2 linked regions of the Homo sapiens genome follow. The protein of the gene in region 2 interacts with the protein of the main gene of each other region in a pairwise test. Each region holds a gene or a part of one and is shown on either strand. Other genes may lie near its edges.

Region 1 (4,016 bases), on a different chromosome or scaffold from region 2:
TAAAACAATGTTACTAAATTCTAGCCAGATGCATTTGCTGCTTTCCCTTTCCTCAAAAGGGAGGGCTGTAGATGTCAGAGAGACTTTAAAGACTAACCCCATGGGAGATTTCCTCCTCCAAGTCTGTAATTAGAAAGGCTGAAAGGGAAATAAAGAGTATGCATAACTTCCTCATCATGTAATATAGTGGTATATAATGCCAAGTCAATGACCACCTAAATCAATTTTGCATAGTTTTGTGTATGTGCCCTAGACTTTGAAAACACTGATCCAGAGAAAGGACAAAGGGGGTGGGCATGGTGTCCCCTGACAAGACTGAGCCTGGGGACGCTGACTGCTCTGCAGCCTGGGGTTACGTCCTACACATGAGACCCCCATTTCAGGGGCTCCCCAGTACCCTGAGAAGTCCCTGGATTTTCCCAGTGAGCCCTGAGGTTGGGGGGCACCCGAGTTCACCTCCCTTGATTCCGCTCTGGGAATCTAGGCCCCTGCAGCCTGGGGAGGAGAAGGAACCTTGAGGAGGGGTGAGGTGGGTGTGGACTTTGAGAACTAGCTCTGGTCCTAACTTGCTGGGGAATCTTGGTCAAGTTCCTTCCTTTCTCTGGCCCTAGTTTCCTTTCTGGAAAACTGGGTAAATTGAACACTAAGGACCCAGCCTAAACATGCTTGTACTTTATGTATGTTCCTTGAGGCTTTACAGGTTATGGAGCAGGGCATCTGGCTGTACGCAGCAGAGACCCAGCCACTAGACACTTAGCCCTAGGAAGGGCACTGTATCAACCCCAGCCGGCATCCTGTCGTATAGAATCATGGACCCCGGAGTCAGGCAGACGCGGGTTCTGAATTGCATCTCTGCATGGCCCCAGGGTGGTTTCTTTGCCTGCATGCTAGAGATAAAAATCCCCAACTCACCAAAGTGTACAAGTTAATGTAGATGATGCATCTGAAAATAGCCGAACAAAATGCAGTGCTCAGAAATGTTAGCTTATAAATGCTCTACAGCAAGACCAAAGATAATCCCTTGCCTATGTGAATACAGGACTCGGTGGTTAACATAGTGCTGTTTGCACAATGAGCTCCATCACCCACATGGTGACCTCATTTTATAGATGAGGAAACTGAGGTTTAGCGAGGCTAAGAGACTTGTCAGGACCTGAGCTTGGGTCTCCCAGCCAGCAGGCTGGTGCTTTTTCCATTGTGTGGGAGTTGCCTGGCTTGTTTCCAGCCAGCTGTCCTGTGGGCTCTATTCTAGCATAGGGTTTCTCCCCTAAATGCAAACTCCTAGCCTTGCAGCCTCACCACTGAATCTAGGAACAGCCCTGAGGGACCTCTGAGGTCCTAGGGACCCTGGAAGTCTTCTTAGCAACAGATGGGGTCAAGTGTGGCTGCCTCCCTCATCATGGCACGCCCTCATGGGGTTTGCCTGGGGGTTGCCCTGCACCTTGGGGCCAGCAGGAAGGCAAAATTAAAGAGGCACCATGAGCCAGGGGAGAGCTTGCTGGGCAGCAGGCTCCATATTTTGTTTTGTTTTCTTTTTTTTTTTTTTCTTTTTGAGACGGAGTCTCAGTCTGTTACCCAAGCTGGAGTGCAATGCTGCGATCTCAGCTCACTGCAACCTCCGCCTCCCAGGTTCAAGCAATTCTCCTGCCTCAGCCTCCCGAGTAAGGGGACCATAGGCACCCACCACCATGCCCAGCTAATTTTTTTGTATTTTTAGTAGAGACGGGGTTTCACCATTTTGGCAAGGCTGGTCTTGAATTCCTGACCTCAGGTGATCCACCCGCCCGCCTCAGCCTCCCAAAGTGCTGGGATTACAGGTGTGAGCCACTGTGCCTGGCCTAGGCTCCATATTTTCATATTCATTCAGTACCTGCTGAGTACCAGGCCCTGTGCTGGCACTGCCATAGGACATGAAGGTTTGCCCTTGAACAGTTTATAGTGTTGTGGTAAGACACACCAGCACCACCCCGGGATAGGTGTGGCAACAGGCACAATCCAGTGACAGCTGCAACCACCACCCATTACCAGGGACTTAATATTCTCCAAGCACCAGCTATGCATATGCTGTTCCACCCTGACAACACCAGGACAATCACCCCTTTTTTATGGGTGGAGAAACTGAGGCTCAGAAAGTTATGTATTTTGTCCCAGGTTGGTGGCTAATGCTGAATTTAAATCCATGTCATGATATGTCACCACTGGGGGAAGCTGACTGATGGGTACACAGGATTTCTCTTCACTATTTTGGCAACTTCTTATGAGTCCATAGTTTGAAAATAAGAAGTTAAGGGGGAAAAAAGGATTTCAGCCCTTTCTGGTGACTCACACCTGTAATTCAGCACGTTGGGAGGCCGAAGTCCAAGAGTTCCAGAGCAGCATAGGCAACATAGTGTGACCCCCACGTTTACAAAAAATTAAAAAGTTAGCCGGATGTGAGATTCATGCCTGTAGTCCCAGCTACTCGGGAGGCTGAGGCAGAGAATGACTTGAGCCCAGGAGGTTGAGGCTGCAGTGAGCCATGATCTCACCACTGCACTCCAGCCTGGACAACGGAGCAAGACCTTGTCTCAAAAAAGAAAAAAAAAAGTATTTCAGAAAGAAGGACCCATTTGAAGGCCGGGTGCAGTGGCTCACGCCTGTAATCCCAACACTTTGGGAGGTCAAGTAGGGCGGATCACTTGAGGTCAGGAGTCCGAGACCAGCCTGGCCAATATGGCGAAACCCCGTCCCTAGTAAAGAAATACAAAAATTAGCCGGGTGTGGTTCGGGGGATGGGGGGCACCTGTAATCCCAGCTACCCGCAAGGCTGAGGGAAGAGAATCGCTTGAAACCGGGAGGCGGAAGTTACAGTGACCCAAGATCGCACCACTGCACTTCAGCCTATGCAACAGAGTGAGACTCTGTTTCAAAATAATTAATTAATTAATTAAATTGAAAGAAAGACCCATTTGAGCAGAAACCTGGAGGTGGGACAGCCTACGAGGGCCCGGCTGAGGGGAGGTGCTGACCAGCCAGTCCGGCTGGTCCTGTTGGGTCATGTTGGGTAGGCAGGACTGAAATTCCCAAAGGAGCTGAGGTCCAGGCTCTTTTCTGCCTCCTGACCCAGACTGGTGTGCCATGAGGATTCAATGAGCGCCAAGCACAGGGACTGGCCCACGGAAGGTGCGCCACAAAATGTACATTTACAAGTGTTAGGCAGGCAGTACAAGGATCACGTCCTCCAGTGCAGCACTCTGCAAATACGTAAACCTGCCTTCTCCTCGTCACAGCCCTAAGGAGGTATGCGCTACTATTTAATACTTCCATTTTACTGAGTAAGTGACAGGCTCAGAGAGATAAAGTGACTTTTCCTAGATCGCACCACTAATAGATGACAGATACTTGGTTTTACCTCATGACTCCAAATCCGTTGCTTTTTCCCAGCCCTGGAATTGGGTAGGGTTTGGGCCGGGGACCCCTCCCCACTCAAGACTCCTGCAGGAAAGGTCCGCCCTTCCCCCAGGGACTTTTCACCTCACCCACCATCAGCTGGGCCGTCATGGAACTTTATGGAGCCTGAGCTCTCCTCCTTCAGGCTGAGTGGCCATGCCCAGCCTTCGTTTCCCCGGCTGTAAAGCAGGGCCAACGGGAGCTCAGAGCTGTGTGGGGCTCCCCAGATGTTGGCGGTGACATGCTTGGAGAAATGCCAGGCTCCTTAGGGTGTTAGGAGAGACCTGTGGCCACAGCTGCTGCTCCGACTGGGACCGGGCAGGCGCTCCCAGGGACAACAGACGGAGGCAGAGGGAAGCCCAGGTTCCCACCCTCCATTTTGTAGGCTCCTGCAGCCCGAACGCCTTCTGCCTGAAAATGGCGGCTGAGAGAGGCCAGGAGGCAGGATGCAGGGCTGAGGAGGAAGCTCCGGGGCTGGGTCTCTGGTCCCTGGGAGATGCTGAGAGATAGGGAGATGGCCCTGTCATAGGAATGTGGTCCCCTGTTTTCCCTTGTATGGAAGGGTGCCCCTGGGTCTCCACCGTGTG
Region 2 (3,781 bases):
GGGAAAGCAGATTCTAGCCCCCTCAGCTGGGGAGGTTTCCCAGTGTCCTAAACCTTGGCCTCCTGCTTCTCTTTAGTGGCCCTGCTCCTGCTTAACACAGTAGTGCTTGTCACATGTTAGTCGCTGCCATGGATTTCTCAGGTTTTCAACATCATAACTACACTCCAATTCTCTGCACCCCTTTGGCAGGTGAGGCCAATAGAAAAATAACAGCACAGTTGAGTTTAAAAATGTAGTTTGTAGCAGGTGGACAGGTAAAGAGCTGGGTTAAATGACACCTCCACCTATCCTAGCTGTATGAGAATAAAAAAACTCCGAATCCTTCCTGAGAGGATTGAGCTGGCTAACCCTATGAAGTACATGGTGTCTAATGCCTGCCCCCAAGGTTTAATACAATATTTAAGACTTGCCTTTTGAAGTTCCCCACTGTCAACCTCCCCAGTTCTCCACCCATCTTCCCATGTGAGCTCTGCCTTAGCCACGCAATGGCCAGTCCTCCCTACAATGAGTCCATTTCCTTTATTCTCAATTTAAATTCAAAGTGGGGAAAAAGTGCACTTAAGAATGAATCATCCATTTTATTTTATTTTGTCATGTGCTCAACAGCATCTCTCTCTCTCTCCCCTCTCCCTGGCAGGTCACAGAGATAAATTAAAAATAAAATCTACAAGGAAAATAATTTATAAAAGCACTCCCAGGTTCACACCTTCTATCCCTACTGCTCAGTTAGGCACCCCCTAACTGGGAATCAGTGCTTCCCCCCACCCCCATTTCACTCCCACTTGTCTGGGGCAGACGGTACTCCAGAGCCGGGCAGGGGTGAGGGCAGCAGTGGCAAACAGTTAAAAATAAAGACATTGTAGTCCTGGAACCATCTGGCCACCTTGGCACTCCCATGTCTGCCTCCCCCAGGCAGCCCTCCAGGAGCCTGTGCGAAGCTGGGGCTGTGGAGAAGCTGCCTGTGGCTGAGAGCTTGTGTGTTTGGGGAGGTGCTCTCAGCCTGTCATATGCACTTCTCAATCTTCTAGAAAGAAACCCAAAAAAGAAAGCAGACGACGACCTCGGGACAGAGGAGAAAAATCCCAAGTGTTCACACAGTTACACGGAGTCTTTATGGCAAAGAGAACATTTAGCAGCTTTGAATATTGGGCATCTCCTTTTTACTCAACACAAGCATTCTAGACCCTATAAGTGAAACAGGGCACAAGCCCTAAAAAAATCAAAGCGCAAGAAATTCTAAGAGGACTAGTTCTTTTGTTGTTGCTGGGTTGTGTAATTTTTTGTGTTTTCCCAGTGATAAGCCCAGTTGTTGGTAGGCAGAGGCCCGAGGGAAGGGTGACTCCCCAGTGTTGTGCTGAATCCTGCCTGGAGGCTGCTACACTAGATTCTCCATCATTCCTCTGCCTCACAGCAGTCCCAGAAGAGGAAGGCTGCAGGCCCAGTTCCCGGAGCACTGCCATCACCCTACCCCAGCTTACAGAAGAGCTCAGGCAGTCTGTGAGGGGTGGGGAACACAAACACCGGACCAGGGGAGGACGGCATACACATGCAGGCTCTGATGGAGACAATGGGAGCCTCAGCTCAGGGGTGGCTGGAGCACGGAGGGAGATGGAGTGGCAAGGCAGTGAATGACATGCGTGATGTTGGGGCTGTTGCAACATGGGACCACGTGACCCTTTCCTGTTCACTCTACCCTTTGACTCTAAATCTCAAAGCCAGTGTTGGGGCCCAGTGGCTCCATTCGATTGAAACATGGCCAATGATATCCAAGAGCTCCCCTTCAGGGATGTCAAAATGCAAGGAGCAGAAAGAGTTAACACCGTCCCTCCCCACCCCCACCCTGTGTCTGTGTACCCCACCCCCCCCGGGGTGAAAATTGGGGTTTATCACACCAGTGATCTAGGCCCACCAGTCACTCCAACCTGCTGCCTGGAATCCTGGCCAGAGCCAACCTTAACCTTCCCTCTGATTTTCTTCCCGCTTTGATTTTTTTTTCGGGGGGGGGGGGGTTCCTTCCTTCCTTCCTTCTATCCCTCCTTCCTGAAATGAGACTTTCTGCCACCTTCCCTTCCTCTCACAGGTCCATTCCTTCCCCTCTGTCGGCCTTTGCTCCACATAGCTCCTCTACCTCCAGCAACTCCACCACCACCCCTGCCTCACAGGAAAGGGGTAGGGTGAGGACCCTGTCCGTCTAAATGGTCTGGCCACTTCCACTCCACCCGAGTGGAGCTGAGCCAGCCAGTGCCTGCCTCTTCCTGTACACTGACCCGCAGTCATCCCATCTGAGAAGATATATTGGATAAGAAGGCATTTAAGTCCCCGCTGTAGGTCCAGGTCCAGGTCCAGGTCCAGCCCTTCTCCAGTTTCGGTCTTGGTGGGCTTCAAACCCCCTTCTTCCCCAGGCTCACTTTCTCCGGTCCTTTGGCTTCCTCTCCTGCCGCCGGGCCTGCTGGTCGGCCATCGTGCGGGGGATGAGGAGGACACTGCCGTCCCCGGCGTACTGGAGCGCATACTGACTGGGCGAGTAGGGTCGTCCGTTCTCATCTCGCAGCCGCCCAAACACCTCCTGGTACAGGCTCTGGACCTTCTGCTTCATCTGTCGCAGGGAGCGCAGGAACTCCACTTTCTCCCGCAGCAGCCGGGCTTTGTCACGCTGCAGGTCCTCCACATCACGCTCCAGATTCAGGATGGTGTCCAGCTTGCGCTTGCGGCAGTTCTGCGCCGCCATCTTGTTCTTGCCCCGGCGCCGGATGTCTCGGATGAGGCTCAGCTGGGCTTCACTCAACTGGTATTTGGACAGCAGTTCATTGAACTCCTCCACAGGCAGGTTGATGATTTTGTCATTGGTGAAAGGGATCTTCATGGCTCGGGCTCGGTGCTCATCCCGGCTCATCTGCTTGTCCAGGAAGTCAGCCTGCTTCTCCTTGCTGCCTTTCTTGAGGGCACTGGGTGGTGGCAGGTCGGCTGAGTCCAGGGCACTGGGTGCCATGTTGTATGTGTGGTTGTGGCCCACGTGCTCCAGGTAGGGCAGGCATGAGAGCTGAGCTGGATCCTGGTAGCTCATGCGGCAGAACTTGGAATACTCAGGCTGGTAGCCCACAGCACCCTCGGCCTCTTCCAGATCCAGGGTCTCAGAGTCAGAGCTGTAGCCAACCGCACCTTCCTCAGAAAAGGAGGAAGAGGCAGAGGAAGAAGCAGAGGAAGAAGAGGAAGAGGAGGAGGAAGAAGAGGAAGAACTGCCTTCAGAGCTGCTTAGGGAAGAAGGGCTATGGCTCGAGTCTAAGGAAAGGCCTGAGTCAGAGTCAAATTCCTCCTCCAGCTGGGAGGCCTGCACAGGGTTAAAGCCTTCTTCAATGGCCAGGTCCATAAGGCTGATCTCATCCAACATAGCTTCATCTAACAGACCCCCCAAAGGGTCAGGCAGCTCTGGGCCTGCTGTGTCATTGGCTGTGCCATTGAGCTGGGGTGGAAAGAAGAGCCCTGTCAGGTTGGTGGAGCCGAAGGTGGAGTTGAGGCTGGTAGAATTGCTGGGGGCCAACGGGAGCAGCGTGGAGCTACTGGCCACAGGCAGGCTTTCCACCTCGGGGCTGAAGAGTAAGAAGTCCTGGCTGCAGCCCCCCAGGGACGCCTGATGCAGGCTGACATTCTGATTGATGGGAGTGTTGGGGGCAAGGCTGTAGTTGGTGCTCAGTGGGTCTCCAGGAGGGGCACTGTACAGGATTTCACTTGCTGATGTGTTCACTTCCATGGCCTGGGAGGGGAGAAGAGCACCACTGTTCAC

Evidence for each region.
Region 1: the proteins of NFE2L1 (region 2) and CD6 interact in a two-hybrid assay, tested with the Homo sapiens proteins (one large-scale study listed by BioGRID and IntAct).

What each region holds. Positions count from the first base shown.
Region 1 is NC_000011.10:60,977,933-60,981,948, forward strand, and holds part of CD6 (T-cell differentiation antigen CD6 isoform 1 precursor), read left to right. Parts: intron 1-4,016.
Region 2 is NC_000017.11:48,058,265-48,062,045, reverse strand, and holds the end of NFE2L1 (endoplasmic reticulum membrane sensor NFE2L1), read right to left. Parts: intron 3,752-3,781; coding exon 2,405-3,751; 3' UTR 501-2,404; downstream 1-500.